6 separate regions of the Homo sapiens genome follow, and regions 2, 3, 4, 5 and 6 are each reported to be linked to region 1. Evidence: microRNA targets listed by miRTarBase, many of them from high-throughput screens and not tested one by one. Region 1 holds a microRNA gene; each other region holds the end of a gene's coding sequence.

Region 1 (5,478 bases):
GGTGGGGGTGGGGAGGGAAGGAGAGGAAGGTAGGACAATGAGGAGGACAGTAACTGAAGAAGAGAAGCTTTCAGCTCGGTGTGGTGGCTCACGCCTGTAATCCCAGCACTTTGGGAGTCTGAGGAGGATGGATCACCTGAGGTCAGGAGTTCGAGACCAGCTTGGCCAACATGGCAAAACCCCGTCTCTACTAAAAATACAAAAATTAGCCAGGTGTGGTGGTGCACACCTGTGATCCCAGCTACTCAGGAGGCTGAGGCAGGAGAATCGCTTGAACCCAGGAGGTGGAGGTTGCAGTGAGCCTAGATCTCACCACTACACTTCAGCCTGGGTGTCAGAGTGAGACCCTGTCTCAAAAAAAAAAAAAAAAAAAAAAAAAAAAAAAAGAGGCTTCCTTGCCAGTGGGTGTAGCAGAAACGAGAAGTGACATAAACAGTCAGGAAGCCGGCTAGGTGCGGTGGCTCACACCTGTAATCCCAGCACTTTGGGAGGCCAAGGCAGATGGATCACCTGAGGTCAGGAGTTCGAGAGCAGCCTGGCCAATATGGTGAAACCCCATCTCTACTAGAAATACAAAAATTAGCCGGGTGTGGTGGCACAAGTCTGTAATCCCAGCTACTCAGGCAGCTGAGGCAGGAGAATCGCTTGAACTCAGGAGGCAGAGGTTGCAGTGAGCTGAGATGGTGCCCCTGCACTGCAGCCTGGGTGACACAGTGAGACTCCATCCCCCCCAAAAAAGTCAGGAAGCTGCTGAGATCATCCAGGTGAACGGTGAACCCACGTGGCCCCAACTGGAACAGGGACAGCAGAAAAGATGACAAGAGGAGGTTCTGGAGATAGAATCCATAGGACCCAGTTATTGGTTCAATGGGAAAAGGCCAAAGAGGTAAAATGCCTGTTTCCTGATGTTTCCTTAGTGATGCTATATTATTAGCAGACAGAGAAGACTCAGTGTTTTAGGAGTTCTGGTTTCAAAAAAAGCAGGGGGCATGGAGTCAAAGTCCAAATTTGAAGCCTCACTGGGACATCCTGGGGAGATGTCCAACAGGGTGTTGAAAAGATGGCACAGAGTATCAGATATCTGGGTGAATTTCTCCACAGCTCTCTCTCTGGGTGAGTGTGGAGTTCAGTCCCTTCTTTGGACAGGTATTGTGCCCCACCCTGAGGGCTACTGCATTCATCCAACCTGTTGGAGGGACTGGTTCCTGGACATAGGAAACCTGGCACCTGGGCCATGGTAATAATCTCTTTATATAGGATTTTGCTATTTTCACAATATTTTAAAGATGAAGAGTGGATGGGAATGGTGGCTCACATCTGTAATTCCTGCACTTTGGGAGGCCGAGGCAAGGGATCCCTTGAGGCCAGGAGTTCAAGACCAGGTTGGGCAACATAGCGAGACTCTGTCTCTACAAAAAATTTAAAAATTAGGCTAGGTGCAGTGCTCACACCTGTAATCTCAGCACTTTGGGAGGCCAAGGTGGGAGGACTGCTTGAGGTCTGGAGTTTGAGACCAGCCTGGGAAACATGGCAAAACACCATCTCTACAAAAAAATTTCAATCAACTTTCTTTAAAATGAAAAATAAAAATACAAAAATTAGCCAGTTGTGGTGGCGCATGCCTGTAATTCCAGCTACTAGGGAGGCTGAGGCAGGAGGATCACCTGAGCCCAGGAGGTCGAGGCTGCATCCCAGCCTCAGCGACAAAGGGAGACCCTGTTTCAAAAAATAAGTAACATATATGTTATTATATAATATATATTATTTATATAATATATAAATATAACAAATATAACATTTATATAATATATAAATGTTATATTTATGTATTATTTTATAAATTAACTTTTTTTTTTTTGTGAGACGGAGTGTCACTCTGTCGGCCACACTGGAGTGCAGTGGTGTGAACTGGGCTCACTGCAACCTCTGCCTCCGGGGTTCAAGTGGGTCTCCTGCCTCAGTCTCCCCAGTAGGTGGGATTACAGGCACCCGCCACCATGCCCAGCTAATTTTTGTATTTTTAGTAGAGACGGGGTTTTGCCATGTTGGTCAGGCTGGTCTCGAACTCCTGACCTCAGGTGATCCGCCCACCTCAGCCTACCAAAGTTCTGGGATTACAGGCGTGAGCCACCGTGCCTGGGCTATTTTTAAAAGATGGAGAAGGGGCTCTGAGAGAAGTGAGTTGCACAGTGTTGCAAAAGGAATTCACAGCACAGCTAGTAATAATAGTAGTAGTAGTAATAATAACAATGGCGATGAGAACACTTAGTAATGCCGTGCTCTAAATCCTTTAGGAACAAAGGTTATACCACTTAATCTTCATGACCCTGTAAAGTAGAAACCATAGCAGGAGGCAGAGGTGGGCTTCACTCCCCAACCAAGGCTGCCAGACTTTTCAAACCCCAGAAGCTCTCTGTATCCCCCCACTCCTCTTCCATCCAGGGCTTGCCTCCTGCTTGGTCACTTCCCACCCCCAACAGGCCGGCCTTCAAAAGCGAGCTCTAGGCAGCGTGTGGGACCTCACGCCTGTAATCGCAGCGCTTTGAGAGGCCGAGGAGGGAGGATCACTTGAGACCAGTTCGAGACCAACCTGGGCATCATAGCGAGACCGCATCTCTGCAAATAAAATAAAATAAAATTAGCTAGGTGTGGTGGCGCGCCTGTAGTCCCAGCTACTGGGAGGCTGAAGTGGGAGAATCGCCTGAGCACAGGAGTTGAAGGCTGCAGTGAGCTGTGACTGCACCACTGCAATCCAGCCTGGGCGACAGAACGAGACCCTGTCTCTAAAAACAAACGCGCGCCCTCCGCCGTCAGGCTGGATGGAGGGAACCCAGGGAGACGACTTGGGCCTGAAGCCTCGCCAATTTCAGGTGAGGAAACAGGGCCGTGGAGGAGACAATGTGGCGATCACAAGCAAGCGGCGGCCCGAAGGAGGAGGCTAGACCGGCGGGCGCACAGCCACAGTTCTGCAGTGATCCCCGGGAAGGTGGGCAGCCGGCCCGGTGACCTGCAGGGTCCGAGCTGTAGAAGCCGCAGCCGCCGTCTCCAGGCGACTCCGCCACCCCCGGAACCACGCACTTTCATTTCTCTGCCGGGCGACCCAGCCGAGCCGCGAGGGGGCGTGGCCGGGCCGGGCCGTACCAAGAGCGCAAATTTGCAGGGGGAAGCGCGGGGCTCCGGGAATGCACGCGCGGCTCGAGTGGGCGGGGCGGCGGCCCAATGGCCACGCCCCCACCCCCGCGGCCGGCGAAGGCGGTGGTAGCGCCTCAGTGGTGTGGGCCTGAGCCCTGCCCAGGTGCCCGCAGAGAGCAGCCGGGCTGCCAGCGGTGAGTGCTATCTTTCGCGGCGACGGCGGGGTGGGTGAGGTCGGGCCCCAAGACTCGGGGTTTGCCGGGCGCCTCAGTTCACCGCGGCCGCCTGGCTCTCTGCGTCGGGGTGGGCCCTCGGGCCTGGGCACTGCGCGTCTGGCCCGACGCTCGGGCGGAAGGCATGGCTCCCACCCCGGCCCTCCTCCGCGTCGCCCTTCCCCTAGAGCTGATCTCCCGCGGCGGCCTGAGGGTCGACTTTTCCACAGCTTGGGCCGAGAGAGCCCGGCAGGCCCTCGGCTGAGGGTTAGGGCTCGGTATCTCAGGGCTCGGGGTCCAGTCCCCGCGCCGCCGCCCCCCACGGGCTAAGCCACTTTAACTCTCCGAGCCTCAGTTTCCCCATCTGTACGATGAATGGGCCTCGGGAGGCAGCGAATTCTGGGGGTACCTAACGTGAGAGGCGCTCGATGCATGCTCATGGGACCCGAATCTAACCCTGCAGCATCAGGTGGGCTGAGTCGATGGATCACGGGAGCCCCCCAGCCCGGCCTGCATCCCTGAGGGCAGTGCCCCTCGCAGTCAGGTGTCTCGGCGGCCCCCACAACACAGGTACCCGGATCTCCTGGGGGAGCCGGGACACCCTTAGATCGGGGGAGCAATTGGGTAAGAGTTCAAGGTCTCTTGGGCGCCAGGGGGAGGAGAGTAGAGGTTTCAGTGAGCTTGATTGACTTCGACTTTCTGCGTATTGTTTTTCAAAACGAGTTACCCTTGTGTAAACTGGTGACCACTAATAAGGAGTTTGGGGCTGTTTCAATGAAAGTGGCTGTCTCCTCTCTTAAACCCTTAAAGCTGCAGCCTTGCCTTGCCTTGCCTCTGAGCTTGGCCAAGCTGGAGAATGATGCCAGCACAAAAGGAGACAGGACTGGACTGGGTGGCCCTGGTTTGATTCTTGGCAAGCAAGATACCTCCTGGAGCCTCCGTTTTCTGATCAGTGGGTCTGGTAGTAAGACAGCCACCCTGCTCTCCCCACAGGGTTGAGATTCTGAGGATCAAGACAGGGTCCCAGAGAGTGGCATCGAGAACTTTAATCCTCCTTGTAAGCAGAACGTTTATGGAACCCTCTGGGGGATCCAGTATCCCCACCGTTGTTCACTGCTGTAATTCCTTGGGTCTTGCTTTATGGAGAAGGCATTGATTCATTAACCATTTGCAAGTTCTACCTACGGAAATCCCTTTTGAGTGGTTATGGGGTTGGCTTGGTCAGGAGAACAGCTCCAAAGGCCCAGTTAGTAAACCAGGGAACCCAGAAAGGTCCACTTCCTTTTTTTTGGGAGGAGGGCTGTTTTAGGAGTTCTTATTTTCCTTTTAAGAGAGTGGTTTTTGAGCTACTTATGACCTTCATGCCATCTAATGTTGGAAACTTTCGCTGAGCAGATAGCTTATTATAAAAAGTATTTGTACAACATCCGCATTTCAGAGAATGGGATGCTAGCTGCCAGTTGCGTGGTGGTGTGGAAACTTAGGAGTGATCTTAATTTTCCAAAATTCTTCAGGTCTAGCACTTGAAGAAATAATAGGTAGATTTGAAATGAAACAACCCAGGGATATTCCTGAAAACAGCAGCATTGACCGCAGCCAATGTAAATCAGGTGTGGATCGTCCTGGGTAGTAGGAGTTTATAAATGCCACAGAGGATGTTTGCTGCCAGACATACCTGAATTTTAGGACCTGCTGTTGGTTAACTCTGGGTTGATCCACCCTTAACCCCTTGAAAATCAGAATCTGTGTTAGGTAAGTCTGTGTATGATTAGGAGACAGGCCAATTGAAATCAAAACTGCTTGGCAAATCCAGAACATTTACTCGTGAAGTCCATGGAACATTTCAAGTTAAAAATAATTTAGCTTTTAAGTAACTTTTTTTTTTTTGTGAGACAGGTCTCACTCTGTCGTGCAGGCTGGAGTGCAGTGGCGCAATCATAGCTCACTGCAGCCTCAACCTCCAGGATTCAAGCAATCCTCCCTCCTCAGCCTCCCAAGTAGTTGGGAGTACAGGCACGCACCACCACACCCAGCTAATTTTTTAAATGTTTTTTAGAGATTTGGTTTGCCATGTTGCCCAGGCTGGTCTCGAATTCTGGGGTTCAAGTGGTCCTCCTGCTTTGACCTCCTAAAG
Region 2 (5,478 bases), not on the chromosome of region 1:
GACTGTGGTCAGCTGCTTCTAAAATGGCTTCCAATGAGCCCACCTTCTGGTAGTCATGCCCTGTGTAATACCCTCTCATCATCATCATGATTATGACTTGTTTAGGCACACCACTATGCTAAAAACTCCAAAAGGGTAAGGATAGTGGCTGTCTGTTTAGCTGCTGTATCTCAAGCTCTTAGCATTGTGCTAGGTTCACAATCTTATAGTCAACGATAAAAGAATAAACAGGAAGAAACTGAACTGGGGTCCTCCAGACTCTTACCTCTTGGGCCAGAAAAGGAGCTGCTGAGAGTCGGGGGGCACTCTGAGAGCCCAGGTGCTCCTTCCAGCCAGAAGATGGACCAAGTAAGTAAGGACCCAGCAAGCTGGCACCCAAGGTCCCTTTTGGTTTCACAGCCTCCTTGAGGCCAGGGTGGAGGTTTCTCCGGAGCACAGGGATCACAAAGCTAGTCCTGTGTCTGAATCACATCCCTGGAAGGCACAGAGGAAACAATGAAATCTTCATCACCAACCCCCTCTCCTGGCCTGCCAGATAGATGCTCCTTGTTTTGTGAACAGGGAGCGAAGAGGAGAGGCTGTGTTTTACTTGGCTAGGTAATACCACTCTTCTTGACTGAAGAAATATACGCTAGAGGGACTAAAAGTAGAAAGTAGTTCTCACCCAAGACAGCTTTATTCCCAGAGGCGAGGCCCTACAGTAACATAAAGAAGCTGTATGTATCCTCGATGTGCCAATGGCCCAATTATCTCCCTCCCCACCCCACCCCCAAGATTTTTTCCACCTACACATCACCCACTCCTGCTTAAGATTTAGCTCAAATGATTCCTCCTCCATGACACCTTCCCCATCTTCCCGGGCAAAAATAGGTACCTGTGCCCTAGGCTCCTGTCGTGCCCTTGCCTAATGCCTCCATTACATCATGCTATAATTGTGGTCTTGGTGGATGCCTTCTTGCAACTGCCAGGGGGCCACCAGGCTGTGAATGAGCTCCTGGAGGGGGAGGACTGTGTTTTATTGCTTTTGTATTCCCACCTCATCAGAGTTCACAAAGTAGGTGCCAACGCTGATTAAATTAGAGTGCTGTTGCATTCTGAATTCAGGAATGGCAGAAATAGGTTGGGGCCTGGTGGCTCATACCTGTAATCCCAACACTTTCGGAGGAGGATATAACAGGACTGCTTGAGCCCTGGAGTTCGAGACCATCCTGGGCAAAATAGCAAGACTTTGTCTCTACAAAAAAAAATTTAAAAGTTAGCTGGGCACACCTGTAGTCCCACCTACTCAGGAGACTGAGGTGGGAGGATTGCTTGAGCCCAGGAGGTTGAGGCTTCAGTGAGCTATGATGGCACCACTGCACTCCAGCCTGGGCGACAGAGCAAGACCCTGTCTCTTAAAAAGGAAAGAAAGAAATGAATCTCTAGAAGGGCATTAAACCCATTTTTGCAGAAGAATGTAGGGAAGAGAAGATAGGAGTTATGTGTGGCTTATCTTAGAAGGAAAGCTCTCTGGAAGCTATGTACTCCGTTGTGTAAGGAAGTCAAGACTGCAGGGCATAGCACCATAAGTCTGTGGAATTTAATCTATTTTCATAGGAAACCACCTCCCTACTCTGTACACTGACAAGGACTCTCCCTTATTCGAAGCCAGTAGTTCTCAAAGTGTGGTCCCAACCAGCAGCTTGTCATCACTTAGAACCTTGCTACAAATTCAAATTCTTAAGCCCTAGCCCAGACCTACTGGATCAGAAACTGTGGGGTTAGGCCCAGCCATCTGTGTTTTAACCAGCCCTCCGTGTAATTCTAATACACACTTGACTTTGAAAACTGAAGTTCCAAGTCTACTGAAACTCACGTGAAAAAGACCTTAGAAATACAATCCAGATTGATTAAAGATTAAGATTAAAGGAGAACTCAAGACAATGCCCCTTACTGCAAAATGCCCAGGATCAATGCAACTTCCCAGTATTTTCCACGAAACAGTTCAACAGGCAATTAAATCAACTCAACACATTTATTTTAAATGTGCAAAATGAATTTTCATATTCTAAGAGTAACACCAGATGTTTTACCTCTTTTTCCTAATTGATTTTCCAGCCTACAGCAATTCATCTTTATGTTTTCCAGTTGGATCCTAATGCAGCAAGAAGAGTGTGTTCCGGCAGGATTATGAAATGCCACGCATTTTCAAACAAGCATAACTTGGGCTGCCATGCGTCATCTGAGTGTTTGTCTGCCCATAATATAAAACACAGACAGTTATGGGTACCAGGCAGATCAGAGCAACCCAGAAAAGGCCCTTTCAGGGAGTTGGGCCTCCAGGCTCTTGGCTGGTTGCAAAGCTGAGTCCTGGGCATTCAGCCCAAGCCTGAACTCTTCCCCCACTGGGTCCTGCGCTCCCTGGTACCAAAGGATTTGCTAGCTGTAAAAGCTGCAAATAAACATGCTGTTTGTCGATGGGAAGTTTTGTCTTTAAAATGAAAAAGGAGACTGCAGTCTGGAGGTGAGTGGGGCCGAGGGACTGAGGAAGGAGTTAGGCAGTTGCTCAAAGCAGGCAGCCTGGATAGACCCCTCTCCCCTCTGCTCCTGGAGGAGCCCAGACAATCCCCTTCTGTTAGTCAATGCACCCACCCAGCTGAGCAGGAGGTCCAGTTACTGCCAGCATTTAAGTGGGTGAAAGGTCACCACCAACCAGGTTTTATTCACTCAACAAAAGCTCTTGGAGTCTGGGGTAAGACCAGGAAACAGAAGCCTCAAGCTTTGAAGCAAACAACTTCAAAGGAGACCTCCACCTTTGTCCTGGGAATGGGGAGGAGGGGGAAGGAGAAGGTGGCAACTAAGTGCTAGAAACCCAGAAAATGCTGATTCAAAAAAAATGAAAACCACACTTCTCAGGCAGTTGACACTCTCAGCTACCTTCCCTGGAAGCTGCGAGAGCTGGCAGGTTTGAACCATCATGCCTGCAGCAGAATTTTAATGTGGTCTCCACCTATAAATCAGCCCGTCTGGTTCTAAGAACCATTACAGCAAAGCTAAGTGTCTACGATTAGAGTTTATCATGACTCTCAAAAAGTGGCAGCTCCAACTTTAAGAACCACCAAAACATCCAATGTTCTTTCCACAATATGGCCCTTCTCTGAACTTAGAATAAATCATTCTAGGTTACTTAATAAAGGACATATTGGGATCAAAGCTTGATAATTTTAAAAAATCACCTCTTTATCTGAACTCCCCCACTTCTGGAAGCTCCAGGCCCAAAGATAACAACCTACAACTTCCTGGGATATTGTGTAAACCCCTTGATGGCCTGAAGGGAACCCAGTAAACAGGCTTCCTGATAGCGTGACCCCACACCAACGATTAATAAAGGTTTTCTAAATTTAAAATGCACAAATGATAACTTTCCAAGACTCAAAGAATAAGCAAAGCCCCATAATAGACTTAAAGACACAAGTGTTTTTAAGACACACAGATGAATGAAATCAAGATCTTCGGTCTCACCCAATTGAACTGAGTACATAATAGGTCAAAAGTTTTTGCACTGGGTGTCGGGGTATCCACTCATCTTCCTCTAGGAATGTGACAGGAACAACCTGGTCTCCCTTGGTCACCCAACCCCCACATGCTCTCAAAGGGACTTCATCCTCATTTACTACATTTGCTATAAGGGAAACGGAGTTGGCAAGAAAGGATCTCGCCTAGGAGAATATCTCCCTTGTTCCAAATTCACAAGGGTATTTTTACACACTATTAAACCACAAGAGCCATTTTATAAATGTCATCATCATAGTCTTTTAATATTTTACATAAAAAACTGTATACACAGCTTATAGAACTTTTATGTAAACATCATAAGCTCACCATTTTGTCATTTGTCAGTTTATTTAAAAAATAAAAAACAAGACAACAATTTAGTAGAAGTACCACTGGGAGGGAGGGGAGGGGAAAAAAGGATATACAGGGGCAGGTGTATTCTCTGTACAGAGGTGCAGAGAAAATTTCACATAGCTTTAGAGAATGCCTTGTGGAAAAAAAAAAAATAGGCCCCAATACTTGTTACTGCCCTTTATCAAAACTGTGTGCATGACCTGCACAAATAAAATCACAAAACAGTGTTGCCACATTCTTCAAGGAAACAAAGCAAAATTTAGTGGGTTTCTTTTCCCTCTCCTTGTTAAAAGTCATTTTTTAAAAACATCAGAAGTAGATGAGGTTACAGCGTACAAGTGTGGTCAGAATGCTACTGTCGTATGCAAATGACGAGTGCATTAAGTGTCAAACAATGAAACAATTGTGCAAAGAATAAAAAAACAAATTTTAGCCTTTAAATAAATCAAATAACATCAGTTTCTTGGACTGAACAATTTTCACTTCTAGGACAGGCACAAAGTTCGCTTATGGCAAAAACAACCCCACAGCGCATCCTCCCTCCTCCCTCCGGTAGCTGGTGGAGGGTTCGCAGCGGGCTGGCCCGCAGGAGAGGCTGTGCTGAAGCTGTGTCCTCCCCAAGTCAGTTGCAAATGTCTTCCCCAGGGGTTGGAAAGATGGTCAAGTCCTGTTCATGCTTGGGCGGGAGTCTGGCCCAGCCTGGGCCAGAGCGCTCACCCATCACCACCCTTAAATAACACCATCTTAGCTCCGAAAATAAAATTATATCTATATTTATATAACATCCCCCCATCCTCCCCAGCAGCCCTCCCCTCCCGCAGTACCCGGGGTCTATGTTACAGACAAGGGATATCAAGCTCCCGCTGGTGAAGGGCGAACATCTGATGGGGCGCGGCCACACTCCCGCGCCAATCTCGCCCCCGGGGATCAGAGGCGGGGGTGGGGTGAAAATGGGGCGAGGGGAGTCGAACAGACACACAGCCACACACTCTGAGGCCCGGCTCTTCAGAAAAGCATGCTCAGGGGACCCTTGGCACTCAGTGGGGAGCCCAGGCCTGTGCAACACAGCTGGACGCACACAGACACTGGGATGGGGGCGCCCGGTGCCCACGCCAAGTCCTGGCGCAAGCCAGAGGCGTCAGCAGACAGATGCCAGGCAGGCCGGTGGGGTCCTTGTGGGACACGGGTCTCCCCTTCTCCGGGCTCGCGGGGGACTGGTCCAGGAGGGGGAGCCGTGCCGGCAGGGGCAGGCGCGACGGGCGCGGCCCTCATAGCACCTTGCAGCAGTTGATGCAGCCGTTCTGGGAGCCGTAGCGCTTCTGCAGCGCGGCGCGCGTGGCCGTCTCGAAGACCTCGCGCACGCCTTCCTTGGTCTTGGCAGAGCACTCGAGGTAGTCGTAGGCTTGGATGCGCACGGCCATGGCGCGGCCGTCATCCGTGCGCACGGGTTCCTGCTTCATGCGGGCCAGCTCTGTGCGGACATGCTCGTCGCTGCGCAGGTCTTTTTTGTTGGCCACCAGGATGATGGGCACATTGGGACAGAAGTGCTTCACCTCGGGGACCCACTTCTCGGGGATGTTCTCCAGCGAG
Region 3 (4,000 bases), not on the chromosome of region 1:
AAACGCAGAGAAGGAAAGCCGAGAAGACAAAAAAGAGAGAGAGAATTACCATGGCTGATGTGAAGCTTCCTCATCCAGGGGAATATTTGCGGAGTCTGCCCCTCGGGCGCGGCTGTGGAGGTGGCCATGGGCTCTGGCTGCGCCCGAGCTAGGCTGGGGCTGCTTAGCTGGCTTGCCGCTTCCTCAGGCTCCGAGGACGCGCTGGCCTCGTCTATTTCGGTGAAATTGGCGCTGGAGCTGGCTGAGGTCGCCTGGTCGGAGGGGGACGAAGCAGAGGGCTTGGCGCCGTGGCTGTCGCCGTTGGTGCAGGGCAGGGACTCGGGCGAGGACAGGGAGCAGCTCGAAGCCGCTTGCCTGAAGCGGGGCTCCTGGGCGGGCGCGGGGAAGGCGCGCGAGCTCTCGCCCACCGCCCCAAAGTGGCTGGAGGAGGCCGAGGAGCGGTTGACGCTGAGGTCCATCCCATTGTAATTGTAGCCGTAAGAGCCGGTGTGCATGGCAGCGGGATCCCTGTAAGAGCCGCTCAGAGAGCTGCCACTGCCATAATTTAGCAACTGATAGTCCGGGCCATTTGGATAACGCCCCGAGAAGGAGTTTACAAAGTACGAGCTCATTTGGGTGATTTTGGAGGGCTTGATTTGTGGATCGTGGTCGTTATAACCCTGTGCTTCACGATTTATGATGTATTAATGAATTATAGCGATGCACTGTACTTCGTTTTGCTATGTATGCGGCCAAATATGGGGGGGGGGTTGGAAGGGGGGTGGGGGGCGTTAGGGAATCACGTGCTTTTGTTGACCAGTCGTAAATTCTCGCTGATGACCTCAAGAGGTAATTCATGCTCTATGGTTACAAATAATGACGATCCGAGAATCGTTAGGGCCGATTCAATGCGAGCCTCCGAGAGAGGGGGAAAAAAGGAGAAGGGGGAGAAACAGAGAGAAGGTTGGCTTTGGCCTCTGAGCAGAGCGCGCCACCTCCCGGCGACCGACGGGAGCGCGGGCGTGAGACCGCCATGGCGGCGGGCGGCTGCCTCCCTGCTGGCTCCCTGCAGGCTCCCTGCAGTCGCCGGGAGAGAAAGAAACCCGGCCAAGGCTCAGCCACAGGGTTGAGCCTTTTAGAGCAGGGGTTGGGCTTTTTACCCACTTTCTTGTGGGTGGGGTTAGCCTCTCTATTTGGTTCTTTCTCCCTACATCATCATTGTCGTTATTATTTTAACTTTGGATGAGAAGATCAAAGATAGAGTTGCTTTTCCCTTTCTTGGGCTTTGCAAGTCTCCGAATTGGAGGCGGAAATGGGGGAAGGGTTGGAAGTTGTGTGTGAAAAACAATTATTGCAACGGGTTTTCCCCAGGAGCTTAGTCCGGCCTGCATCCTGGTGGAACTGCTGTTACCGGTCCACAGCGCCCAGGCCGAGCCGGCAGGGCTGGGCGGGAGGCTTGAAAAAGAAGGAGAAGCGTTCACTTCTCCTGGGCCACTTGGAAGTTCGAAATCCCCTTCCGGACCTCCTTGGTGGTCCTTAGCCCAGGCGTGGGGAGTGACAGAGCAGGACAGGGACCCCAGAAACCGAGCACAGCTGGGGCTAAGCGGCCTAGTTGCCGAAAAGACTGCAGCGGCCACCGCGTCTGCTGCTTAGTTTGAGTAGTAACATGTGTCTGAGAGTTTGTAAAGCGGGATCCCTTCCCCTCCTCCTCGGCTATTGCATTCGGAGGCCCCACTACAGGTCCCTCACTCGCAGCTAGGCAGTTTGAGAATTTGCCTGGTGGCAGCCGCCTTCCCGGAAAAGGGGTTCCAAGGACCCGCATGCTTTGCTGAGCACGCTGGGCGGCCAGAGACCGCCGCAGCTGGTCTCCTATTAGGAGGGGACTATTTTCTTTAAAAATAAGAAAGGAAGCGAGAGGGCGGAGGAATAAAGGAAAACAGTGACCGCAGCTTGCCTTCTGGGTGCCGGTGCAAGCAGAGAGAGAATGAGCCATTCTGGGTTGAGAGGATGACACTAAAAGCCCCATCACCTGGCCTCCTGCCCTGGGGTCTCCAAGGAGCAAGGGAAAGTTGTGGCCTTCGGCCTGTGCCTGGCTGGTGGCTTTACATTCCCCTACTTGAGGCTGATCTCCTACTTGAGGCTGATCTGCTACTTGAGGTGGGAAGGGGCACCTGGAGCCTTCAGCTGCAGGGTGAGAGATACCCAGTGGCCCCATTTTTCAGTCTCCAGAGCCACAGGCCAGGAGCGGAGGGCCAAGGCTGGCGAAAAAACCTGGCCATGTGGACGGGCCAAAGACCAGGGGTCGCTGCGAAGGTGAGGACAGAAAAGCGCTGCAGAGGCCCCCAGACTATGGCTCCGTCTCCGCCAGAGAGCTTTAGGGGCCTCAGTGGCTCCCTTAGTGCTGTGTATACACGAGGAAAGGCTAGAGAATGAGAGGGACACAGCACCTCTCCATCCCCCAAGTCTGCACGGGGAGAAGCGGCTGTGAGCCTCAGCACCAGGGAAACGCAGCGCTGGGGCCTGGGCAGGACTGATCGCTCCAGCCTTTATCTCAGCTGTAACTTCCCAGTCGAACAGGGCTCGCTTCGGCGGGCCAGGGCTCTCGCCTTTGCTGAAGAATTCTGGCTCAGGAAAGATGGAGAGGCTGGGGGTTGAGGAGAGAGGAAAAAATGGCAGGGGAGGATTGGAGGTGACCGAGCGTCGAGTTTTCACATCTTTATTATTGTTGTTGTTGTTGTTATTATTATTATTATTATCATCATCATCATCATCATCATCATCGAAGTATTTCACGTCCAGAGCTAAGACAAGACTACAAACACAACACATAGAAAATTAATAAAATAGAACTTTGTTTTCTTCTGAGGCTCCTCTTCTTACTTCTAGGTAGTATGTGCTCCTTCCAGTGGCTTTGGGGAGGGGGTGGGAGAGACGACAGGTCTGGGATCAGGGAGTCTTCAAGGCCCCCGCTGAGGGGACAGCGAATCTACCATTGAACCGTGCACGGGGGACATGGACAAAATGAGACGCGACAGGGACAAGAGCATTTTGCTCTGCTTCCAGGAAACATCAAGTGAGTCCGCTCCTCAGTTCTCACCAGGAAGCCTGATCAGGCTGAGGCGAGTTCCTCGGGAAGGAAGGGCGCGCGGGATGCTGGGTGGGCTCGAGTAGTGAGGCCTCAGAGCACCCGCCGGGAGCTGTGCGGGCGGGGGCGTCCAGGAGAGCGCTGGGCCCCGCCTGTCTGCGCCGGAGAGCAGGTCTCCTGGCTCCCCCACCCGAGAGCCTTCCTTCCCGGGTCTCTCTGACGCCCTCGGCTCCCCACAGGCCTTTCCCCTCGCGTCCTCCCTCCCTTTCCAGCACCTTCACTCGGCCTGTTTTTCTTCCTCCTCCTCGGCACTGAGCTGAGACGCGCTGAGCAGTTTGCTCTCCTTTTTCCACTTCATGCGTCGGTTCTGGAACCATATCTTGATCTGCCTCTCCGTCAGGCACAGGGCGTGCGCGATCTCGATGCGCCGCCGCCGCGTCAGGTAGCGATTGTAGTGAAACTCCTTCTCCAGCTCCAGCGTCTGGTAACGTGTGTATGTCTGGCGGCCTCGCCGGCCGCTGGGCCCAAAGGAGGAACCTGTTACGCAGAGTGGAGATGCTGAGGCCTGCGGTCACCGGGCCCAGGACCCCCTCCCCTAGTCGACCCTCGAACACAGACTCCAGCCAGTACCGGGATGCCCTCTATTCTGCCGGCTCCCTTCCCCCGTTTCGCACTCCTCCAGCGCCCCCTCCAGATTCCCTCCTAGTCTCCTAGGCCTGTGCCGTCTGTCTAGACTCTAGATGGGGGAGGGGAGGAGCAGTTTGAACTCCCACCTGAGCCTGGGGGGAGGGGCTGGTCAGGTGTGTCTCTTCCTAGTTGCATCTTGTCTTTCCCTCCCTTTCCATCCATCTTGTTCCCACCCCCCGTCATCCCCCCAACCCAATGATAAATCCAGGCCGTTAATCCGTAATGACGTAGATCGATCCATAGTCCACA
Region 4 (5,478 bases), not on the chromosome of region 1:
AGCGAAGTGTATGCACCTGCCCTGTGCCCACACTGGTGACCTTCTGTGTCCACAGGGAAGCGGATTTGTCTTGGTGAAGGCATCGCCCGTGCGGAATTGTTCCTCTTCTTCACCACCATCCTCCAGAACTTCTCCATGGCCAGCCCCGTGGCCCCAGAAGACATCGATCTGACACCCCAGGAGTGTGGTGTGGGCAAAATACCCCCAACATACCAGATCCGCTTCCTGCCCCGCTGAAGGGGCTGAGGGAAGGGGGTCAAAGGATTCCAGGGTCATTCAGTGTCCCCGCCTCTGTAGACAATGGCTCTGACTCCCCGCAACTTCCTGCCTCTGAGAGACCTGCTACAAGCCAGCTTCCTTCCCCTCCATGGCACCAGTTGTCTGAGGTCACATTGCAAGTGAGTGCAGGAGTGAGATTATCGAAAATTATAATATACAAAATCATATATATATATATGTTCTTGTTTTTTGAGACAGAGTCTCACACTGTTGCCCAGGCTGGAGTGCAGTGGCGTGATCTCGGCTCACTGCAACCTCCACCCCCGGGGATCAAGCAACTCTCCTGCCTCAGCCTCCCTAGTAGCTGGGATTACAGGCATGCACTACCACGCTTGGCTAATTTTTGTATTTTTAGTAGAGATGGGGTTTCACTGTGTAGGCCAGGCTGGTCTCGAACTCCTGAACTCAAGTGATTCACCCACCTTAGCCTCCCAAAGTGCTGGGATTACAGGCGTGAGTCACCGTGCCCAGCCATGTATATATATAATTTTAAAAATTAAGCTGAAATTCACATAACATAAAATTAGCTGTTTTAAAGTGTAAAATTTAGTGGCGTGTGGTTCATTCACAAAGCTGTACAACCACCACCATCTAGTTCCAAACATTTTCTTTTTTTCTGAGATGGAGTCTCACTCTGTCACCCAGGTTCGAGTTCAGTGGTGCCATCTCTGTCCACTGCAACCTCCACATCCTGGGTTCAAGTGATTCTCCTGCCTCAGCCTCTGGAGGAGCTGGTATCACAGGCGTCCCCCACCACGCCTGGCTAAATTTTGTATTTTTAGGTGGTCTTGAACTCCTGATGTCAGGTGATTCTCCTAGCTCCAAATGTTTTCATTATCTCTCCCCCAACAAAACCCATACCTATCAAGCTGTCACTCCCCATACCCCATTCTCTTTTTCATCTCGGCCCCTGTCAATCTGGTTTTTGTCACTATGGACTTACCAATTCTGAATATTTCCCATAAACAGAATCATACAATATTTGATTTTTTTTTTTTTTTTGAAACTAAGCCTTGCTCTGTCTCCCAGGCTGGAGTGCTATGGTGCAATTTTTGTTCACTGCAACCTCTGCCTTCCAAGATCAAGAGATTCTCCAGTCTCAGCTCCCAAGTAGCTGGGATTACAGGCATGTACTACCATGCCTGGCTAATTTTCTTGTAGTTTTAGTAGGGACATGTTGGCCAGGCTGGTGGTGAGCTCCTGGCCTCAGGTGATCCACCCACCTCAGTGTTCCAAAGTGCTGATATTACAGGCATAATATGTGATCTTTTGTGTCTGGTTGCTTTCATGTTGAATGCTATTTTTGAGGTTCATGCCTGTTGTAGACCACAGTCACACACTGCTGTAGTCTTCCCCAGTCCTCATTCCCAGCTGCCTCTTCCTACTGCTTCCGTCTATCAAAAAGCCCCCTTGGCCCAGGTTCCCTGAGCTGTGGGATTCTGCACTGGTGCTTTGGATTCCCTGATATGTTCCTTCAAATCTGCTGAGAATTAAATAAACATCTCTAAAGCCTGACCTCCCCACGTCAAGAGGTGATCTGTGCCATTTTGTGTGTGATTCTTTTATTGTCGGGTCTCTAGGGATTTTTCTGGAAGGAATGTTGGTGAGAATGCCTCTCTCACCTCAATGCCAACTCTGTGAAGGGCCAAACCATTGTCTTGCTCATCCCTGTACTCTCAACACAGCGTGTGGCATATGACAGGTGTTCAAAATATTTGGTGAGGAATGAATGAATGAGTGGCTAAATCAGCCACCCCCTACCCCCACAGCCCACCCAAAATGGAGCTAGGCCTCCTCCATCAGACTATATCTCCTCCATATCCCACTTTCTTGTGAGGTCCAGAATAAATTCTCATCCCCAAAGGGCCCAGGATGCCCCCATTCTGCCTACCAGTTACTCTCGATACCCCGTGCTGCAATGCCACCTTTTGATAAAGCTTAGCGCTATTCTTGCAGTGGAACCACTCTAAATCCAGCCTCCAGGCTGGACGCGGTGGCTCATGCCTATAATCCCAGCACTTTGGGAGGCCGACGCGGGTGGATCACTTCAAGTCAGGGGTTCGAGACCAGCCTGACCAACATACAAAAACCGTGTTTCAACTAAAAAAGATACAACAATTACCCGGGCATGGTGGTGTGCATCTGTAGTCCCATCTACTCGGGAGGCTGAGACAGGGTGATCGCTTGAATGCAGGAGGGAGAGGTTGCAGTGAGCCAAGTTCCCGCCACTGCACTCCAGCCTGGGTGACAAAGTGAGACTCCGTTTCATAAATAAATAAATAAATAAATCCAGCCTCCAAACATTCCACCAGCAGGACCACCACCCTTCCCTGAGGGAGGTGCTGCAAGTTTAATATCATTATCACAAGGATACATCAGCCAGCCTGTGGCCAGTGGGAAGCTGGCCCTGGGACTCCACCCTGAGATGCTAACCTTTTGGCGTCTGCAGCATCTGCCATCTTTGGGCTCCTTGTAGCCTCTGAAGAGTTAACAGAGACTCTGCCAGTACAAATGCATGGCACACATTCCCTCACCAACCACAGAAATAACAAACAGAGCAACATGTCTTTTAAGAGCGACAGCAGAATGGAAGGCGGGAAGAATGAGGACCACGGTGCCCTCAGCCTTCTCACTCCTCATTGTCCCCAGTGGCCTCTTGCTACTCTGGTTCTGGGGCCATCCCACCTCCCAGGGCTGCCTCTCTCCTAGGCCCTGGCCTCTGCCCTTCCTGGGGGAGCATTTTGCAAATAAACCACAGGGCTTTCTGAAGTCTGTCCAGGTGGTGAGATGGGAGAGTGTGGAAGGGATGGAAAAGGAGGAGGTGGGTAGACGGGAAACAGCTCACAGGCAGCAAGGCAGTTGGGGTCGTACTTTGGGTGGGATTCCACAGACAAGCTTGGGAATTCCTTTCTGGCTTATATATTAACTACAGAAGCTTCTGGAATTTTATAAGGTGAAATGGAGAGGAGACAGACTGGAGGGTGAAATTCTGATAGACTTGAGGCTTTGAGATGTGGTCCTGGGGTGGAGCAAGACAAGAAAAGTACTGGAGATTGGGGTTTGAGGAGTCTATGCAATTATTTTTATTTTTAAAAATCTTTGTGGCTACATAGCAGGTGTATATATTTATGTGGTAAGTGAGATATTTCGATACAGACATACAATGTATAATCACAGGCATACAATGTAGACAGGCATAAAGTGTATAGTCACATATAATAATAACATCATGGTAAATGGGGTAACCATCACCTCAAGCACTCATCATTTCTTTGTGTTACATTAGAGTTATATTCCCTCTGTTATGCTAAAATGTACCACAGGCTGGGCACAGTGGTTCATGCCTATAATCCCAGTATTTTGGGAGGCTGAGGCAGACAGATTGCCTGAGCTGAGGAGTTCGAAACCACCCTGGGCAACATGGTGAAACCCTGTCTCTACAAAAATACAAAAAAAAATTAGCCAGGCATGGTGGCATGCATCTGTAATCCCAGCTACTCTGGAGGCTGAAGCGGGAGAATTGCTTGAGCCTGGTAGGTGGAGTTTGCAGTAAGCCAAGATTGTGCCACTGCAGTCCCGCTTGGGTGACAGAGTGAGACTCCATCTCAAAAAAATAAACAAGCAAACAAACAAAAGTACAATGAATTATTGCTGACGGCCATCACCTTATTGTGCTATCAAAAACTAGATCTTATTCATTGTATCGAACTCTATTTTTGTACCCATTAGCCATCCCCAGTCCCTCACCTCCACCCTTCCCAGTCTCTGGTAACCATCATTCTACTCTATCTCCATGAGTTAAATTGTCATAATTTTTAGCTCCCACGAATGAGTGAGAATGTGCAAAGTTTGCCTTTCCGTGCCTGGCTTATTTCACCTAACATAATGTCCTGCAGTTCCATCCATGTTGCTGCAAATAGCAGGATATCATTCTTTTTTAATGGTTGAATAGTACTCCCTTCTGTATGGGCACCATATGAACACTTAGGTTGATTCCATAACTTGGCTCTTGCAAACAGAGCTGCAAAATACACTGGAGTGCAGATATCTCTTCAGTATACGGATTTCCTTTTTTTTGATATAGATTTAGCGGTGGGATTGCTGGATTGTGTGGTAGCTCTATTTTTAGTGGTTTTCTTTCTTTTTGTTTGTTTATTTTATTTCTTTATTCATTTTTTTTGAGATGGAGTCTTACTCTGTCACCCAGGCTGGAGTGCAGTGGTATGATCTCAGCTCACTGCAGCCTCCACCTCCTGGGTTCAAGCGATTCTCCTGCCTCAGCATCCTGAGTAGCTGGGACTACAGGCACCTGCCGACACGCTTGGATGATTTTTGTAATTTTAGTAGAGATGGAGTTTCACCACGTTGGCCAGGCTGGTCTTGAACTCCTGACCTCAGATGACTCGCCCACCTCAGCCTCCCAAAGTGCTGGGATTACAGGCATGAGCCACCGCACCTGGCCTATTCTACTTTTTTTTTTCTTTTTCTTAGGGAAACTCCATGTTGTTCCTCAAAGTGGCTCTATTAATTTACATTACCACCAACAGTGTACAAGGGTTCCATGGGGATTACTTCAGATTGAGTGGTCAGAGAGGGCTCCTTTGAGAAGACTTCTGAGAATTGGCCATGGGAAGGTGTGGGGAGAAGCCTTCTCAGCTGAGGGAACAGCAAGGTCAAAGACCCAGAGGTAAGAAAGCAAGCTTGGAACCTTCCAGGAGCAACAAGGCATTGGCTCTGATAATGCCTTCTCCTGCTAAAATGACAGCTCTAGGAAGGCAGGGTTCTTATTTCCTGTCTATCTATCTATCTATCTATCTATCTATCTATCTATCTATCTATCATCTATCTATCTATCATATATCTATCTATCCGTCTGTCTTTATTTATTTATAGAGGCAGAGTCTTGCTCTATTGTCCATTGTATTAGTCCATTTTCATGCTGCTGATAAAGACATACCGTAGACTGGGTAATTTATAAAGAAAAAAAGTTTAATAAACTCACAGTTCCACATGGCTGCGGAGGCCTCACAATCATGCTGAAAGGCAAAAGTTGCGTCTTACATGGTGGCTGGCAAGAGAGAGAATGAGAACCAAGAGAACGGGGTTTCCCCTTATAAAACCAACAGATCTCATGAGACTTATTCACTACTATGAGAACAGTATGGGGGAAACCACCCCTATGATTCAATGATCACCCAC
Region 5 (5,478 bases), not on the chromosome of region 1:
CAGTAGAGGCAGGGTTTCACCATGTTGGCCAGGCTGGTCTCAAATACCTGACCTCAGATGATCCGTCCACCTCGGCCACCCAAAGTGCTGGGATTACAGGCGTGAGCCACTGCATCCGGCTGTCTATCTTATTTTTAAAAGGGCTGCCCTCAAACTATCTCACTACCACCAGAGCCTCCTTAATTAGCAAAACATTAAATTACTTGAGGTCCAGCACTCTCAGGGTGCCTATTATGGTCACATATAAATTAGGAGAAAAACAAAAAGCAGAGCTTTCATTTGTTTTTATCTGACTTCATTATTTTTATCTGACTTCAAAATGTGTTTTGTATTCTTGAGTTCTCCCAAGTTCTAGATCTTTATTCTTAACTGACTCTGGATATTTTAAACTCCATCTCCACTCTTGTAAAATCTGATCAATATTTAGTTTATTCCACCTTGTTTTCCTATTCTCAAAAGTCCTTTCAATCTTTCAATATTCAGCTCAATGGTCACCTCTTCTAATGCTGCTCTAGACTTCTTTGTAGTTCTCTTACTGCATTAGTCATATTCTACCATAGCATTTGCAACCTTGCACACCACTTCTAGCTAAAGCACTTGGAGGAGTTTCCTGATCAATCATGCTCCCTCCCATTTTCATGCCTCTGCATGTTCTGTTTCATCAAGCTAGAAGGCCTTTATCCCCATTCTTGCATTTTCATACCATGGAAGTTACCAAACGACTGCAAATGTTTAAATACACTTTTTGTTTTCATACTTTTAAAGATACATTTTTATATACCCTCTATTTCTAACATAGTTCTTAATATATATGTGATGAATAAATTGATGAGGCTTGAATGTATAACTTGCCTAAGATCCTAAGATAAAGATCAACACAGTTGATCTTTGTAAAATGGCACGTTCACTTTGAAAAACAATTTGGTAGTTCTTCAAAATGTTGAACATAGTTTCCATAGGACCCAGCAAGTCAACTCCTAGATGTATACTCAAGGGAAATAAAATCATATGTCCACACAAAAAACTTGTATACAAGTGTTCAGAGCAGCATTTCAGAATACCTAAAAAGTGGAAACAACCAAAATATCTATCAATTGAATGGATAAACAAAATGTGGTATATTCATATGATGGATTATTATTTAGTAATAAAAAGGAATGAAGTATTCATACGTGTTACAACATGCATGAACTCTCAAAATATTTTGCTAAGTGAAAGAAGCCACATACAATAGGTCACATGTTGTATGGTTCCATTTATATGAAATGTCCAGAATAGGCATGGAGACAAAAAGCATATAGTGGTTTCCAGGAGTTGTGGGGAGGAGGTAGTGGGAAGTGATCACTAATGGTTACAGGATTTCTTTTGGGAGTTATAAAATATTCTGTAATTAGTGAGTGGTTATTGTTGCACAACTCTGTGAATATAGTAAAAACCACTTAATTGTATACTTTTTCAGAGTGAATTATATCTCAATAAAGCTATTATTAGCAAATGAACACAATAATGAAAATTCTCTATTTGTTCCAGATTTTTCATCAGGGGCTTAATCTTTGGAAATCAGAAAACAACTCTGCCTGCCTAGGACTTCCTGATCGTACATATTAATTGTACAATTATGAAATGTCAAAGGATCATTCTAAATTAACCCTTTTATCACCTTGTTGGTGAGAAAACTGAGCTCCAAGAAGCATAAATGACTTAAATAAGGTTATATAACTAGCTAGTAGAACCAAGGAAGAGTCTCATTCCAATGATTCATCTTTATTTGTCGATTTTGACATTTTTCTAAATCCCAAGGTTTTTTATGATTTAAAGAAAAAAATTAAAAAGTAAAAAGAAAAGCCTATTTATCTTTCATATTAACTCCAATAATTATTTCTAGATTTGTGGGAAATACAGGAAAAAAAAAAGGCTAAGAGAATAAACAACTGCACCTTTCTGCTCCTGTGAATGAGAAAAGACAACTATTAGTACTTAAAGGTTTTACTCTTTAAAAACAATACAGCATAAGCACTCATAGTAGTAGTTACAGCAACATGGACCACTCTTTCCTCCTAGGGGATAGAAGATAATCAGACACTTAGCAAAGATGCTATTAGTATCTGGGAATTTGCCCCCAACTTTCAGAAAGACACTAAATTTAATCCATAGGAAAACATCTTTCAGAGTATTAGTTTCTAAAGTTTCCCTTTCAGCCCTACTTTTTGCAGCCTTTTTCACAGCCAATGGCAGATACAGGTGCAATAAGTAATTTCTGTGGTACTTATTCACTTGGGAGATTTTGGTGATAGTAAAACATTTTCTTTGAAAGTCATGTTTGTTCTTTTCACCAAACAGCAACTCTTAAAAGAATTTTCACTTATTTTTCCATGGAAAAACACTGAGGATATAATTTTTTTAAAAGAGCATTATTCAATGTTGACCTTCAAAAGCTGATTGTAAAATACCTCATCATATAATCTACAGCCAGAGAGTAACTCAGCAATTGTGTAGTCCAGCATTTCTACAACCTAGGTATCCACATGTACCTTAGGATGACATTGGCAGGTAGTGTGAGGAGCTAGGGGAATGGGGGGTGGTGGCAAGAATAACAAATAGTGGTACATGCTAAATTTAGTTTAGAAAATTCTGGGTTAATTCGATAAATATTTAAGGAACATCAATTACATGCCAGGCTGTCTACTAGATGCAGAGTAAGACAGATTTATACCAGAATTTTCTTAAAGCCTCGAACAAGCTACTGTTCACAATGAGCACAGTGACCATATATCCTAATTTGCTGTAGACAGCCCCAGTTTACAGGCGCTATTCCAGCATTAATATCATCTCTTTTTACCTCTATAATCCTACATATGACTCTCTAAGAGGTGTGTGTGTGTGTGTGTGTGTGTGTGTGTGTGTGTGTATGTGTGTAGCAAACAGATTTTCCTAAACTTAGATGGCCAATTACATACTTATACCTACATTCCTACGATTATCTCCTAAAACAGTGATCTTGGTCCACAGAACATAGTTTGGGGTCTACTACATTCTTATCATTTGATAGCTGAGGAAACAAAGGATCTGAGAATTAAATAGACTCAGCTAGAAAACGGCAGACATGGGATACTAAAGCCTAGGACTCCTGGCTCATAGAGATAGCTCTAATGCCCTTTCTGATATATCACAGACTGTGATACTAAAGCACCCTTAACATGATGTTAACAAGTTCTACTACAAAAATAAGTCAGCAAGTTTCACATTTTAATTTCATTTTAAAGGAAGTTCATTTTGTTCTTTTTCAATCATAACTGTAAAATTAATCAAAAACAGAGTCAATGAGAAAATATTATCTTTTAGGCAACTCTTCAAGACTATAAGCCCAGTTCACTTATTCCTACACTCTCCTTTCCCTCCCCTCACTCTCTATTAAATATAAAGTAGCTGATTTCTTTATGTCTTTATAGTATCATTGGCTTCACAGGTGTGTGCTGGGGTGGGGGAGGAGAAGTTAATTCTATCCATCAATCAACAACATTTTCAGTGTCTACCACAAAGCGTTCTGCTATAATATTTTACTCACATTGTGGTTCCAAGTGTTTTTTTTTTTAAAGTGAGGATACTATAATAGTGCCTTGGGCCATATGGTACTTACACAAATTCCAAGCAGTCAAATTACAATATAATTCCATTATTATTTTTAGGTTTCTATAAGCTTACTAACAGAGGCCATTTTCTGATTCTGGTTGCACCAAAAGGTATGGCCCTAGAAAAAAAATCATGCAAAGAATTTTATCTTTAAAAATTAGTTATTCAAATTTTTGATCATCCATGGCACTGATATTTCTAGCTAACTGCTATGCATTTTAAGCAACTTACACAGTTCTTCCAGAGAAAAAGGAGTGAATGATCATATAGTCTTTAAAAAGAAAGCCTATGAGCTAAGAAATAGAATAGCCTGTTCTGAAAAAGGAAAAAGTAGAAAATGTTAGTGAAAACAGGGTTTAAACCCTTAGGAAATTCATTTCTGTATAGGATATCATTTTGTTCATCACCAAGAAAAGGTAGTCAATATTAATTAAATCTTACACAGGCAAGATAACCAGTTAAGTAGATGAGAAGAAAATTGCAAGGTGAGTAAGGCAAAAAAAACATTTCTAGAAAGGAACTATTCTTGGATTTGCAGATGGAATATGAGGTGTACATGTAACAGAATATCCTTGTCACATATTGGAAGTTGTGATTGTGTGACAGAGCTCTAATGTTTGTAACACAGCAGACTCTTCTGTAATAATTATTTTAAAAGGCTTGCCTATGATAATTTACCATTTGAAGTAATGAACTTATTCAAGTATAACTATTGTACTTAGTTATAATCCCATTTTTTTTAAAAAAAGGAATACAGATATTGATCACATCAAACATTTTCATTGAGAAATTGACACGGACACTAATGAGGTTTATCATGGATGGTCTCAGAAGCTTTCCTGTGTATGTGAAGCAGAACTACAGGCCTTTTTGTATAAGTTCCTGTACATCTTGTCCATGCTGTTCTCAAAGATGGGTCGGTGGGATTTTCCCTTATAAGAGGCTGCCCTGTTGGACCAGTATTCACCGTCATCCAAATGGAAAGTGCCACGTGGCTGCTGACATGAGCTATAAAAAGGGATATAAAAGGTTCAAAACAATAATGAAACAAAATTAGAGATAGTACTATGTAAATCAAATATTTATTGAGTACTCTATGGCTATTTAATTCTCTGCTGGGGCTGTGAAAAATAAAACAGAGTAAGGCCTGTGCTTTCAAAGAGGGACATTTTAAAAGGGGAGGCAGAAGTATCTGTGTAAAACTGTTATAAAACAGTAAAATGAAAATTTTGTGTTAGAGTGAAAAAGGAATTCAGAGAACAGACACAGGTACAGCATAATAAAAGCAGAACATAATAAAAGCAGTTCTTATACTGGCCTGGTATGGCCAGTATAAGAATGCACAGCCCAAGGCACAGTGGCTCACGCCTATAATCCCAGCACTTTGGGAGGCTGAGACGAGCAAATCACCTGAGGTCGGGAGTTCGAGACTAGCCAGACCAACATGGAGAAACCCCATATCTACTAAAAAATACAAAATTAGCTGAGGATGGTGGCGCTTGCCTATAATCCCAGCTACTCGGGAGGCTGAGGAAGAAGAATCACTTGAAACCGGGAGGCAGAGGTTGCAGTGAGCTGAGATCACGCCATTGCACCCCAGCCTGGACAACAAGAGCAAAACTCCGTCTCGGAAAAAAAAAAAAAAAAAAAAAGAATGCATAGTTGCTAAAAGTCAGGCATACCTGAAACTGAATTCCAGCTCAGTCCTTTATAAGCTGTGAGACCTTGGGCAATTTATTTAACTATCCAGAGTCTCAACTTCCTTAACTTTAGTTTTACAGGATTGTTTTAAAATTTAAACACAGACGTTATTAAATATGAGACACTAAACCAGGTACTTTATATCTA
Region 6 (4,000 bases), not on the chromosome of region 1:
AAATGTGGAAAAATGTGTGCCTTAGAATCAATAAAATACAGCATTTTAAACCATTGCCTCTCCTGCTGTAATGAAGCCCCATCACTGGCAGAAAATGGAATCTAGTTAGGTACTTGAAATGTATGACTCCTAGCAATACTTTCTCCCTAGCAATTCAATTCTGATATTTTAAAATACTGACCTTTAGACAAAGTTGGGACAGGTTTGTGAGAGGAACTTGTGTTCTGGGCATTGCATTGCATAGATTGCCCAGGAATGTATAACCATATAAATCCTGCACACAGCCTGCTTTGTGGAACATCTTGGCATTTTTTTTCTTGTGCAAGGCTGACATCTGCTGGACAAACAACACTTAAGCAAAGTGTTGCATTTTAGAGTAAATTCAATTCTTGGCAAGAACCTACTTGTGGAGTATATACTACACATTTTCTGAGGAGAAGTTGCATGTAATTCTTATCTTTGTTTTTTTATAGGTAAGGTGTTTTTTCCTTCTGGCTTCTTTTATGATTTTTCCCTTTACTTGTGATTTTCTGTAGTTTAAAAATTATAAGCTTAGGTGTAGATTTTTGCGTTTTTTTGTGCGTGTGTTTATTCTTTTCGGTGTTCTCTGAGCTCTCTGGATCTGTGGTTTGGTATCTGACATTCATTTGGGGGAATTCTCAATTATTATTGTTTCAGATATTTCTTTTATTTCTTTCTCTCTTTCTTCTCCTTCTGGAATTTCCATTATGCATATGTTACACCTTTTGTAACTGTCCCACATTTCATGGATATTCTCTTATATTTTTTTCAGTCTTCTCTTAGCTTTTCAGTTTTGGTGGTTTTTATAGCTATAGTCTCAAGCTCAGAGATTCTTTCCTCAGCCATGTCCAGTCCACCAATAAGCCCATCAAAGGCATTCCTCATTTCTGTGACACCATTTTTTATCTCTAGCATTTTTTTTACTCTAAGGATTTCCATCTCTCTGTTCATTTGTTCTTGCGCACAGACTACTTTATCCATTAGAGCCCTTATCATTTTAGTTGTTTTAAATTTCCAGTTTGATAATCCTAACATCCCTGTCATATCTGAGACTGGTTTTAACGTTTTCTCTGTTTCTTCAACCTGTTTTTGCCTTTTACTATGTCTTTTTTTTACAACTGGACGCGATGTACTGAGTAAAAGAAATTGATGTAAATAGGCTTTTAGTAATGTGGTGGTAAGGTTTAGGGAGAAGGGAAGCGTTCCATGGTCTTATGGTTAGGTCTCAGTCTTCCAGTGAGACTGTGCCTCTGGATTGTGACTCTCACCTGTGCTTCTCATCCTCTCTGTCCCCTTTAATGGGACGGGATGGCTAGAGTAGGCAGGAGTTGGGTGTTTCCCTTCCTTCAGGTCGGTTAGTCTCTGATAAAACCTCATCCGGTTAGGTTTTTGGTATCTAGTTTCTCCCGAGGGAAGACTTTGTTAAGAGGAATAGAATGCTCTGCTGCATTTCAAAATGGTTCCTTTCTCCCGCCCCCTGCGGGAAACACTAGGGGATTTTTCTCCAGTATTTCCTGTGAGAACATGGTTGAGCTCCTAGAAGTAAGACTCCCAGAAACAAGGGGCCTCCCAATGACTGGGTCTCCCTAGAGTTTTTATTTCTCAGACTGGTCCATGCTGAGCATCCAGTAATTCCTCGGTTATTGTCCGGGTTCTCTACCGTGGTTCTGATTCCTGGGGGAGTTTATGCTTTGGGGTTTTTGCTCTAACAAGTCATAAATCTTTGCATTTGCCTATTTCTCTAATTTGAGGAGAAGTGGTTTGCCCTGTGACCCACTTCTCTGATGGGTCTAGAACGGTTACTAATTTTTCAGTCTGTTCAGGTTTTTACTTGTTGTTTGGGTGGAGTGGCCGCTTCTAGCTCCTAACATGCCAGACCAGCAACTGAAACCATCTGAAACTTCTTGAAGTGCATATGACATATTGATGCCTTCTGCTATTTACCTCTTTTGTGACTAAATACATACATATGATTCATATACCCTGAGATGTAGGTAGTAGGTAAGAGAGAAACAAGAGTGATTAGATTCCTAAAACCACAGAGAATTAGAATTAAAACAGTTAGAATTGTAAATATCTTTGTGTGTCTGAGCAAGTACCACTGAAATTTTGGAGTATTAACTAAGAAAACAATTAGACTAGAAAATGTAGAAAATGGTACCAAGATATCCAAAATAAAGGAATCTCTAAGCAAGATTTATTTACTTAATTCAATAAAGATTTTAATTTATACTATCTGGGGAAAATACCATTATCCCTTATGCCATTTTCTTTGTGGTTGTAGCAGATAGGTGGTTAAAACTACAGAAAGATTAATTTTCATTAGTTTAAATAATAAATTACTGGCCAAACTATTTAAAGGTATAAGAGATATCTCTGAAAAAATTAATACTGAAAAACTCATATCTGGAGGAAAGAAATTTTAGCTGCAATAAATAACAATGTGAAATTCATTTCCTGCTTTGAGGAGGGGAGGGAGAGCTACCTTCATCAGACCACAGTTGCAGAAGGGAGCTCAGACCCTAAATGAGCATAGCTGTGAGGTACATTGAGGAGTCTGCTCTGAGTTCAATGATGTGGGCTGATTAGAACATAGCTGAAAGCAGGTGTTGGGATATTGATTTCCATGGCTGGTCCTCACCTGTTACAAAACTTCTACTACAATGAGTTTCAAACTTCAATATGCAATCAATTATCTAACCTAAAGATCTTGGTAAAACTGTGATTCATTAGGTCTGGGGTGGGGGCTGACAGTCCACATTTCTAACAAAATCCCAGGGGATGCTGATGCTCCTTGTATCTGTACACTACAGTTTGAATATTAAAGTTCTACACAATGTCTCCTGGAACAGCAGTTCTCAGACTGTGATTACCAGACCAGCAGCAATAGCATCACCTGAGAACTTCTTAGAAATGCAAATTCTTTGGTTCTATCCAGGCCAATTCAATCAGACACTCTGGGAGCTGGGATCTGGTCATTTGTATTTTAACAAGCCCTCCAGGTGATTGTGATGCCTGCCAAAGCCTGGGCATCATTGATCTAGAGAGGTATTTTCCAGCCATAATAGAATTACCTGGAAGCTTAAAATAATTAGTCATTGGTTTCCAATTAAATCAGAATTACAGAATGTGGGACCCTTTATTATGGGTTTAAAAAAAAAAAACCTTCCTCATTTGATTACAATGTGCAGCCAGGTTTGAGAACTGCCTGAGAGAGGCCCACTTACTTCACGAGTCTTTGCCAGCAAAAGTCTGGTGGTGGTGGGGGTGCCTGGGTCTGCTGGGCCAGCGACTCTGACTCTGCTCCTCCTCACTGTTGCTTTGCACCTGTAACCAAGATCCCACAGAACTCAGCCAGAGCCAAGGGGGAAAGGGGGTAAGGAAAGGTGCAGGTGGCAGGTAGCTGTAGGGGAAGGAGGCTGAGTGTACTTGAGAGACAGCCTCTTCTGTGGTGTCAGGGACACAGTAATGAGGAAGGCAGGAGCGGAGGTGTAGCTCTACATTCAAGGAGAGGTGACATACATGCAAATGATATTTCAAATAATCACGGCTTCTTTTTGTGGCAAGGATTTAAAAGCTTTTTAAAGAGATCCCAACACTTCATGGAAGTATCTTCCATAGACCCAGGCGAGAGGAGTTCTGAGTCTTAGAGGGTCAGAAGAGTTGGTGGACTTAGAGAACACGAAGAGTTGGTGGACTTAGAGAATGTGCCCACCTAGTCCTGCACTATTCCTTCTAGAACATTCTTTGGTTACCCAGAATCACAAAGTTTGCTGGTCAAATGGCCCCAAGCCGGTTGCAGGAATGTGCGCTGGTTTTGCCTGATGACTGTTCTCTCAAGGGCTGACCTCTCCAGTAGTGTATGCAGCCTAGGCCCAAATGATGACCAATGGCTCTTTGTGTAGGTGGGAGCTTGTGGCATTTGGATGTGCAGGCTCGGGTAACCAAACATGGACATGCAAGGTCCCTTATGGTATAG

Evidence for each region. The annotated mature microRNA hsa-miR-4651 reads CGGGGUGGGUGAGGUCGGGC and lies in region 1 at 3,353-3,372, shown strand. An mRNA with a match to its seed (bases 2 to 7 or 8) in the 3' UTR can be bound and repressed. Matches are read on the target gene's strand: a 7mer-m8 pairs with bases 2 to 8, a 7mer-A1 pairs with bases 2 to 7 and ends in A, and an 8mer does both.
Region 2: miRTarBase lists RHOB as a target of hsa-miR-4651. Seed matches in the 3' UTR shown: 7mer-A1 at 4,829-4,835 and 7mer-m8 at 4,825-4,831.
Region 3: the mRNA of HOXB6 is a reported target of hsa-miR-4651. Seed matches in the 3' UTR shown: 7mer-m8 at 2,899-2,905.
Region 4: miRTarBase lists CYP2B6 as a target of hsa-miR-4651. Seed matches in the 3' UTR shown: 7mer-m8 at 537-543.
Region 5: the mRNA of SPATA6 is a reported target of hsa-miR-4651. Seed matches in the 3' UTR shown: 8mer at 3,475-3,482 and 7mer-m8 at 2,576-2,582.
Region 6: miRTarBase lists TESPA1 as a target of hsa-miR-4651. The part of its 3' UTR that is shown has no 7-base or 8-base seed match.

What each region holds. Positions count from the first base shown.
Region 1 is chr7:75,911,854-75,917,331 of GRCh38, forward strand. It overlaps MIR4651 (microRNA 4651), which reads left to right and starts at 3,344; the gene lies at 3,344-3,416. POR (cytochrome p450 oxidoreductase) reads left to right here and starts at 3,302. Exons shown (of 16, transcript NM_001395413.1): 1 at 3,302-3,326. LOC124901680 (a long non-coding RNA gene) reads left to right here and starts at 688. Exons shown (of 2, transcript XR_007060393.1): 1 at 688-886; 2 at 2,443-2,641. RefSeq lists an enhancer at 2,710-2,759 and a silencer at 3,020-3,509.
Region 2 is chr2:20,447,735-20,453,212 of GRCh38, reverse strand. RHOB (ras homolog family member B) reads right to left here. Exons shown (of 1, transcript NM_004040.4): 1 at 3,773-5,478. The coding sequence ends at 5,157. Among named protein-coding and RNA genes, the nearest start is that of RHOB, 3.4 kb to the right of the region's middle. RefSeq lists an enhancer at 2,451-3,012.
Region 3 is chr17:48,593,072-48,597,071 of GRCh38, forward strand. HOXB6 (homeobox B6) reads right to left here. Exons shown (of 4, transcript NM_018952.5): 4 at 2,680-3,601. The coding sequence ends at 3,342. It overlaps HOXB5 (homeobox B5), which reads right to left and starts at 708. Exons shown (of 2, transcript NM_002147.4): 1 at 50-708. The coding sequence starts at 611. The region is part of intron 1 of HOXB-AS3 (HOXB cluster antisense RNA 3); the gene reads left to right. RefSeq lists a silencer at 332-381 and enhancers at 638-1,145, 847-916, 1,146-1,651, 2,694-3,365, 3,423-3,592.
Region 4 is chr19:41,016,591-41,022,068 of GRCh38, forward strand. CYP2B6 (cytochrome P450 family 2 subfamily B member 6) reads left to right here. Exons shown (of 9, transcript NM_000767.5): 9 at 56-1,808. The coding sequence ends at 237. Among named protein-coding and RNA genes, the nearest start is that of CYP2B6, 28 kb to the left of the region's middle.
Region 5 is chr1:48,294,256-48,299,733 of GRCh38, forward strand. SPATA6 (spermatogenesis associated 6) reads right to left here. Exons shown (of 13, transcript NM_019073.4): 13 at 1,118-4,638. The coding sequence ends at 4,458. Among named protein-coding and RNA genes, the nearest start is that of SLC5A9, 74 kb to the left of the region's middle.
Region 6 is chr12:54,957,920-54,961,919 of GRCh38, forward strand. It overlaps TESPA1 (thymocyte expressed, positive selection associated 1), which reads right to left. Exons shown (of 11, transcript NM_001136030.3): 10 at 3,249-3,348. The coding sequence ends at 3,250. Among named protein-coding and RNA genes, the nearest start is that of TESPA1, 25 kb to the right of the region's middle. RefSeq lists an enhancer at 1,402-1,451.